3 linked regions of the Homo sapiens genome follow. The protein of the gene in region 2 purifies or fractionates together with the protein of the main gene of each other region. This does not show direct contact. Each region holds a gene or a part of one and is shown on either strand. Other genes may lie near its edges.

Evidence for each region.
Region 1: the proteins of SEC24D (region 2) and ARFIP1 fractionate together in Homo sapiens (co-fractionation; one large-scale study listed by BioGRID). This does not show direct contact.
Region 3: the proteins of SEC24D (region 2) and ERN1 purify together in Homo sapiens (co-immunoprecipitation; one study listed by IntAct). This does not show direct contact.

Annotation. Positions count from the first base shown.
Region 1 is NC_000004.12:152,782,889-152,786,550, reverse strand, and holds part of ARFIP1 (arfaptin-1), read right to left. Parts: intron 1-3,662. UniProt on the Homo sapiens protein: Plays a role in controlling biogenesis of secretory granules at the trans-Golgi network. Mechanistically, binds ARF-GTP at the neck of a growing secretory granule precursor and forms a protective scaffold.
Region 2 is NC_000004.12:118,722,190-118,725,253, reverse strand, and holds the end of SEC24D (protein transport protein Sec24D), read left to right. Parts: intron 1-1,598; coding exon 1,599-1,739; 3' UTR 1,740-2,431; downstream 2,432-3,064. UniProt on the Homo sapiens protein: Component of the coat protein complex II (COPII) which promotes the formation of transport vesicles from the endoplasmic reticulum (ER).
Region 3 is NC_000017.11:64,038,497-64,040,910, forward strand, and holds the end of ERN1 (serine/threonine-protein kinase/endoribonuclease IRE1 precursor), read right to left. Parts: 3' UTR 646-2,414; downstream 1-645. UniProt on the Homo sapiens protein: Serine/threonine-protein kinase and endoribonuclease that acts as a key sensor for the endoplasmic reticulum unfolded protein response (UPR).

The sequences.
Region 1 (3,662 bases), about 34 Mb from region 2:
TGAAGTGGCAGTAGTGGAAACAGGAAGAAATAGAAAAATTCAAGAGTCATGTAGAAAGTAAGACTTTAAAAACTTGTTCAATCATTGGATCTATCAGGGAGAGGGAATTAAGGATCACTTCTAGTTTTCTGGATTTTACAATGAAAAGATAATTGTGTCATTCACTGAAAAAAGGAACAAAGAAAGAACCAACGTTGTGCAGTTTTGTAGGGAGGGAAGGGGAAATCAGTTTCATTTTAGACATACTGGATTTGAGATACCTTTAAGATATTCAAGAAAGGATGTCAACAAGACAGCAAGACATACAGATCTACAGCTCAAAGCAGACAGAAAACACTCATGCCCTTAATGAAGCTGACATCTTTATCCTAGAAAAGCAGCTAACTATAATCCCCAAATATCCAAGAAAAATGTTAGACTTAGACTTTGACCATCTGGATTTAGTTAAAACAAAAAGCTGAGAGAGAACATGGCAATAACATTTCATCAGCTAAAACAAAAACTGCTAGGCACCATGGGTAGCAGATTTTTAAACTCGTGGTTCAACAATATAGGAATTATGTATCACATCATATCATGTCGCATTTTAAAGTTTTATCAGGGCTGGCCAATGTTGTTGGAAATGTTCTAAATTTGCACTGTCCAATAAAGTAGCCACCAGCCACATATGATACTGACACTGAAATGTGGCTGGTACAATGAGGAACTGAATCTTTTATTGTATTTAATTTTAACTAACTTAAATAGCTACATGTGGCTAGCATCCCTGGCATTAGACAGTGCAGGTTTACAGCTTTCTCATATATTTCATCTGATTCCCCAATACCTACTTTTCAAATTAACTGGGAGAGAGGTGTGGTGGGTGGAGAGATTAGAGGAATAGAAAAAACATCCTTTCCATTTTCTGCTTATTACTTGAATCTTTATTTCAAGAATTTATAATACTTATGCTGGATGCAGTGGTTCATGCCTGTTATCCCAGCACTTTGGGAGGCCAAGGCGGGAAGATCGCTTGAGCCCAGGAGTTCAAGACCACCCTGGGCAATATATAGCACTGAAACAAAACAGATAAGGTCCTGGCCATTTTAGAGATTACAGATCACGGGCTTAAACCCAGGGGCTCTTTCCACTGAGGGTATAAATTCCTGATCCATCCCTTTTTAGGTATGTGACCCTGGACAAAGCACTTTACCTAAATCTCAATTTCTTTATTTCTAATGTGGTGATGTTATCTGCTCTACCTATTTGGTATGGCTGGAGTAAAAATAAAATGAGGATGTATGTGAAAGTGCTTTGTAAATTATTACATGCTAAACAAACAGAAGGTATTAAACAGAGTAACATATTCCTTTTCTCTAGGGCAAAGATTTCCAAACAGTGTGCCAAGAATGGATTACAGATGTGCTGAAATTGTGACCCATTCCCCCACTCCACAGCTTCCAAGGAACCAAGGAGGGCCTGGCTCTAGTCTGCCATACAATTATAATCATTTTTTATGTGTGCCATGATGAGTATCTCAGGCTAGCAGAAACTGGAGTTGGCGAACTGACTCCCTCCTCTGGAAGATTTAGGGCTTACCACTAACTCTGCTGCTTTTATGATCCTGTTCCAAAGGCAGTATGTCACTGTTCCCCAGGGACCAATGAGGCTCAAGCTTCAACATCAAGGAGCTGCTAGTCCAATGCTATCACAGATATACAAAAATAAAATATAAATTCTTATCTTAGGTGAGAACATGGTAAAGACACTGCCATATTTTCACAAAAGATTTGAGCAATTGCCTGTTTTGCAACTACCTTCAGATCCCCAAATCTTTGTCTTTCAAGAGAGGATCTGATTTTTTCCAAATACCCAAAGTTATTCAGATTCTGGTGACTGAGGTCACGAAGTGACGAAGCCAGGCAAGAACTTCATTTTTGTATGTCTCAATCTGAACCGACAGTCATACTAGAAGAAGATTTCAAAGCAGATTGCCTACTCTGAAAAACAGCATTCACTTAAATAAGTATGTTCATTAAGGGAAAAAAGTGTATTTCATAAAGAGACTTTATATTCCTTTTTCAGGAACAACTAAAGGTTTGAGCAACACCTGCCTATGCCCATCCTAAGACAAAGGCTTAGAAGGAATGGAGGAGAATGGAATGAGAGATGGGAGAAAGAGGAGAATAGGAATAAAGGAAAAAGAAAAAGAAAATAAATACTTTTGTCTCATAAAGAATATCTGTTAATCTGCAAGAGCCATTCGGCAGCTTCCATGACTGCCAAAAGCTACTAAAGATCAAGGAAAACAAAATTATTTTCAGGCCAATAGTCTTTTTCATACATCCAGAAGTAGTGCTACATATCTGACTTTTAGATTGTCATGATCCTAAGTCATCAACTTCCATATTAAGTGGAACAACTCACTTTCCATTCTGTACAAATATTTTAGTTTTTCATCCATAACCATATTAAAGTTTCCTGTTTAATTTACTCCTTCTTCCATTCTGAATTTATTCTTTCCATCCCAAATGTATTATTCTAAAATTTATTTATACTTCCAGACTCTTACAATGCCCAGTTTATTACTTATAATCTTCATTTTCACATTTTCCCCTCCTCATATACACACACACCATCTGCTTATTATTTGAATCTTCATTTCAAGAATTTATAATACTTACAATTCTTTATTTCAAGTAGGTGTGTGTGTTCTAACACACACACACACACACACCAGAGACTTATATCCATCCCCATAGGAAACCCCTACCAACTGCCTCCACCAAATTCACTTTTTTGTCAAACTTCTCAGTATGATATTCAACCAGATGTTCATCCACTGAAGATTAAGAAAGGAAACAACCTTTTCTCAACACCTGATAGAAAGTCAGGTGATATATCTCCAACTCATTTCAAAAAGGACATAATGGACGCATGGTAGAAGTTGTCTACAGTAGTAGTCTAGAGTCAGACAACGTAGGTGGAGCCATGCACTGGCTCCACCAGCGCAATTCTGAGCAGACTACTTTAGCTTCAGTTAATCATTCAGCTTTATTTTCTTCACCTACAGAAATGAGGACTTTAGCCACTTTATAAGGTTATCATTTGAGATAATAATGTAAAGCACTTAGCTTAATGCACATGGTAAGCAAATAAATGTAACTGTTACAGTGTTAGATATAAAATATCTTCCGAATTTGTCATTACCTTAAAAGGAAACTAATTTAGCATAAGCTAGTCTGTTGTTGATGTTGTTTTTGAGATGGAGTCTCACTCTGTTGGCCAGGCTGGAGTGAAGTGGTGGGATCTTGGCTTACTGCAGCCTCCGCCTCCTGGGTTCAAGCGATTCTCCTGCCTCAGCCCCTCCCAAGTAGCTGGGACTACAGGCATGCAACACACACCCGGCTAATTTTTTTATTTTTAGGAGAGATGGGGTTTCACCATGTTGGCCAGGTTTTGAACTCCTGACATCAAGTGATCCACCCGCCACAGCCTCCCAAAGTGTTGGGATTACAGGTGTGAGGCACCGTGCCCAGCCTAGCATACGCTATTCTCTATAAACTTATGTTGACTGCTCCCCCAAGTGAGGTTGCTAGACAGAGGAAAACTTATTCTGTGAGCAGAAGAAACTGGATACTCATGATAGACTATGATGAGCTGTATAGGTCTCTTCAAGTTAA
Region 2 (3,064 bases):
TTCCAGTGCCAACTCCCAGTACCTAGAGCTGACACCCAAAAGCCAAGGCATCACACATATCTGTATCCACATGGAATTAGCTGAGTTGTGGCAACAGCAGTTGTTCTTATATATTATTATTTTTACTAGGTCGGGGCAACTTAAAACCTAACAGACTTGGATCCAGGCCGAAACGTTATAAAGGAAAAAAGCAAGTGGTGTTGACAGAGTTACTCTCTGCTTGATAACTAAAAAGCATAGAATGCAAAAGTAGGGAGGGCCCTGCCCTCCTAGCCAAAATTGCACATACCTTCCCTGCTGCAGCTGGTGAAGCAGCTAACTGCATGTGTTTCCCTATTGCAGGCCTTTCTGGTGGGTTTACCTCCTGAGAGGAAGAAGTGAGAAATACCCTCGCTCCTCTTAATTACACAGGAGGCAGGTGGAGAGGCATTGTTGTGCATGTGTGGCTCAGTTAACCCCACTTGTGGCGCAATAAATATGAAATTATGACAATTCAGATCATCTACCTTGACTTCCTCAAGTAGGAATACAGGTGTAGAAAGAAGGGTTCAAAGTGTTCATGACAAAACTGCCTCTCTTCTGGGCTTCTTCCCTGTGGGTTTCTTCTTAGAGCAGCACTCTCCAGTAATGCAAATGAATATGCAATTCTGTGTTTTCTGATGACTGCATTTAAAAAGAAAAAATTCATTTAAATAATTAATTTAACCCAGTATATCTAAAATATAATTTCTATATGTAATCTGTATCAATTATTGAGATATTTTTATATTTTATTTTTCATACTAAGTCTAGAAATCTATTTTTTTCTAGAATCTTATATAGAAAATATAGAAATCTTATATTTACAGCACATCTCAATTTGGATGAGCCACATTTTAAATGCTCAATAGTATGTGTGTCTGGCTGTTGTACTGGACAGCACAGGTCTAGAGAATCATGATGAGCAAAGGACAGGAGTTCTCCCTGTTTTCCCTGTGTGTTAACCTCTCTAGCATCTCTCCAATCTACCCCCTTTCCACCTCCACTGCTCTAATTCAGAACCTGATCATCTCCCACCCAGACACTTCAAACCACTTCCTATCTAGTGTCCCTCATCTCACGAATGTATTGTACATACTGCTGCCACTTAACTCTCTCATTTCATTCTTCTGCACCTTCACTGGATCACATTTCCTACAGAAACCCAAACTCATTATGATGATAATTTGTCCCTTTTAGAAGAAGCCTGTGATAATTTACATGCCAGCCATAATTGTATCTCTGGTACATGGCACATGTATTCCAGTATGGAACACTTTCTAGCCCTACCCCTATCCTTTAAGGCTCAGGGGACAGTTACTATCACTGTGAAGCCTTTCCCGTAACACTCTGCTTAGGTTTCATTTTTGCCACTTAAAATTGTATGTCTTAGGTTTTGGGGTTTCGGGGTCCATGCCTCTTTCCACTCTAGATATCAGGCACTTTCCCATCATCCTCCATAGCCTCACACATAATGGGCATTCAATAATGTTTGCCAAAATTGAAATAGACAAAATTGACCCATTTTCAAATAATGTTTATAACCAGGGGCTGTTACTGTTTTGTTTTTTTTTTCCTAGCTCACAATTGTAAAGCAGCGAGAACAACCAGAAATGGTTTTCCGACAGTTCCTGGTAGAAGACAAAGGACTTTACGGAGGCTCTTCTTATGTGGATTTCCTTTGTTGTGTTCACAAGGAGATCTGTCAGCTGCTTAATTAATTGAAACTTCTCTGTCATTGATGTTGCATTTCCAAGGAGATAATCTCCTTCTTGGTGCCTAATTTTCTAGATGATAATAGGCTAGTTTTGATTTCTTGCTCATTTTCAGAATAACTTTCCAGGAAGAGATGGCATTTAGAACTTCAGCTTTGGTGCTCAGGTATAAAGCCAATTAAGGTACAATTGTACCATAAAGGGAACAATCTGTTTCTGATTGCACAGTTTCTAATTTTTAAAACTGATGTGGTTTGCATTTCATAAAAGGCAAAGTTTACAGAACCATAAACATTCTCAATTTTCTTTATGCTAGACATATAAATTATTTTTCAAACTGTATAGATTTGGGGTAAAAAGTTGTCTCAGTTCCTCTCCCAATTGCAATGAGAAAAAAAAGCTTAATTTTTACATTATACTTAATTTTCTAAAACCATGTAACTCCATTGAACACATTTTTCAACTTAAGGTCTGCATAGCAGACTTTTAATAACCTTGGGATTTATCTGGTAGAACAATATGTGTTCTACATTTTTTTCATAATTATATATTGTGTATGTTAAAACTATTTTCCAGTTGTTTTGTCTGTAAAACTGTCTTTATCAATATGCTTAATGGTTCTTTGTACAATTTTGAAAGTTTCTACCTGTATATAATGGATGTTAACCAGTATCAATAAATCACTTCGTATAATCTTAGTAGGTAGATTTATTTATTTATTATGTATTTTTAGGTCTTAAAAAGAAATAAGGGTAGTATTCAAAAAGTCTTGGCAAAAAGTTGTTTGGGTAGCTCACTAAGAACAAATCAGGAAAACAAAATTTTCTCTTTTTTTTTGAGGGTTGAGGAGTACTAGGCAATAAATCTAAGAAACATCATATTATACTTGAGAAAGGCATTTCAAAGTTCTCTAAAATGTTTTTGTGGGCAAAATAAATAGAAATGGGCGACATGAAACCATTATTAATGAATATGTCTAAACCTAGAAGAATGATTTTGAGTGATGTCACAAAGGCATCTGCCTCTACCTGCCCTATTCAACTTTGTTATCAATTATATGAATAATAATAGCTAACATATATTGAGTACATATCGTGTCCCAAGAACTGCACTATGTTTTCTGGGAACATATGCACATGTATTCTTCACAGCAACCCTGATCCTGTTATCAGCCCCATTTACACATGAAGAAACAGGCTTAAGTTCCTTGTCTCTGATTATATGGCTAGTAAGATTTATTTATAAATTAGATGTCATGAAGTAGGTAGAAAAACAAATACAGTGACAGAACTAAAATCCCCCCCATGTTAGCCAACTGGCATGTTGCTTCA
Region 3 (2,414 bases), on a different chromosome or scaffold from region 2:
TGGCAGGTGGAGCTTGCGGAGGGCAGGAGCTAGCCTGGATGCAGCCCCCGCTAAGCTGTCCTGGGGCAGGTGGGCCCTTGGGGTCCTCCCTTGTAAGCTGCCCCCGGCCTGGCACTGCAAGAGCAAGTGGAGCCTCACCTGATTTCTCCATAGAGAGGGTGCAGGGGAAGGAGCAGGTGTGTTGGGAGGATTGCAAAGTCCAAGCAGACGTCAGCTGAGCTCATTCCACACGCCGCTGTCCCACTCTTTGGGGGCACTCCCAGCCCTTGTTGGTCTCAATGGCATTTCTCCCCTCCTGGGTTTCCTGGTCTGGTATCCTACCTACTGTACACATGCCCCAAACTCTGCTTTGAAGCCCAATTCTCACCACGTGGCATGACTGTCCCAGCTGGCCACCTTCCTGGAATTCAGCCCAAATCAGTACTTTTGGGAACTTCCTGCAAGGTTTCAAAGAAGCTTTTCTGACACACAGCCACCATGGAGGGTGTTCCAGTCCCCGGACCCTGCTGTGGACATGAGGACACCCATCCCCCACCAGCCGAGCCAGCTGCAAAGGCCTCATAATCCAGCCCCGGCCACCCAGAAGGACAGTGAGCACAGCCTATCTGAGAATGGTATTTGAATCTTTAAGAAAATGAGACTGACTCCAAAATCTAAAACTACCTTTATTGTGGTTGGCTCGACATAAGATGCCGCCATCAGCAGAATTATAAAACTGTACAGGAGGCACAAAAATAGGCTGTTTAACTTAGATAATGACCCTCATGTCTTCAAGCTTTAAAAATGCACATAAAAGTTGTACAATCTGGCAGTTTATAAAATATAAAGCTAAAAAGAGGATTTTGGGTTCCACAAAGAAGACTGTATCACACAATTAACACGTACTAATTAAACAATTAACCATCCACACAGAAGACATAATGGCACAGAATTCTTAAAAATCACCTAAAAATTAACATTTTACCCCGACCAAATTAATCACCCTTTAATAATAAGACTACTGTAAAGCATCCATCCCATGGAAGGATACAGTATCACTTTTCCAGTTTTAAAATGGTCAAGGGTGTTGTCCAAAACAAATCTGATGTGCTTTAAGCAAGTACAATTGTAACTGGATACATTTCAGAGTAAAAATTAAATAAATATAAATAGGTTAAATAAATAGGTCATTGCAAAAAGAACACTACACAAGGTTTACATCTGAGAATGCAGAGTAGGTGACTGGTAATGCTTTCTAGGTAAGTGGGGACTCCCCATCACAGCTTTAGGGACACTGAAAAGGAATACTGTATCCACCAAACACACACACAGTACACAGGGGAGGTGGGGGGGCTTTGGCCAAAGTGTTGGTTAAGGCTGCTCCAGTGGGAGGCTCACTGCAGTCACGTTCTTTGTGGCTTTCCAACGTCTACAGAAAGAATTTAAGCGCCGGTACAAAAAATCAGAACCAGAGTTACTCACGGGAAATCACTGTTTCATAAAGAAGGAGGGGAGTAGACCATTGGGTTTAAAAGATGATGTCCAACCTGGGAGGGTGGAATTTCGGCTCACCTGGAGAGGATGCCTGATGACTTCCTGCCAGGAGAAGCCAAAGCCAGGACATAGTCAACCAAAATAACTCCAGGTTGGTGAGGGAAGGGACAAGGAAAAGAAACACTGGGAAATTCAAAGAAAGGCAATCTCAGACACTAAAAGAGCAGAGAGAGAAAGCGACATGGGGGACTTAAAGAGGCTCCTTCCAGGGCGCTGGGCTTCTCTTCCAGCACAGAAGGCTGCAAAAGTGGAACTGGCCCCCAGTTCCCAGAGGATCACAAGGCCAAGGATCCAATGGGCACACCATGAGGACCCAAGGAAAGGACAGAGAAAGGAACGGCTCTGGGAAAGCCAAACCTGGCCAAAGTCCAACTTCCTGAAAAGAAAGCAGCCAAGAGGAGAAAGCCGTACAATCCAAAGGTCCCCCCATCTGCATGAACGGTTTGATCAGCAACCAATTAATCTCTCACTGCAGCAAGAAAAGAATTGCCAAAGATAACTGAATCGCATGCACACAAAACCTTACCAAAGGCTCAGGGTCAACTCTGATAAGGCCCTTTCTTCTAGAGTTGGTGGGAAGAAACTCTGCTGGATCTACTCACCTGCAGATCTTCCAGAACATCTATCTGTAACTGATCAGAGTGATGTCTCCTTGGAAGGGCCTCTGACCACCACTGCACTGAGAACACGGCGGGAGTGAGAACACCTGCGCACCCAGGATTTCACACTTAGCCACTAGATTGCTTCACAGCTAATCAGGGAAATGCCAGTGTTCCCCAGGTGAAAATGTTTTGGTGCCTAATGACTTGTGGAGCACTTCAAAAACTGAGATTAGGCCGGGTGCGGTGGCTCAAGCCTGTAATCCCAGCACTTTGGGAGGC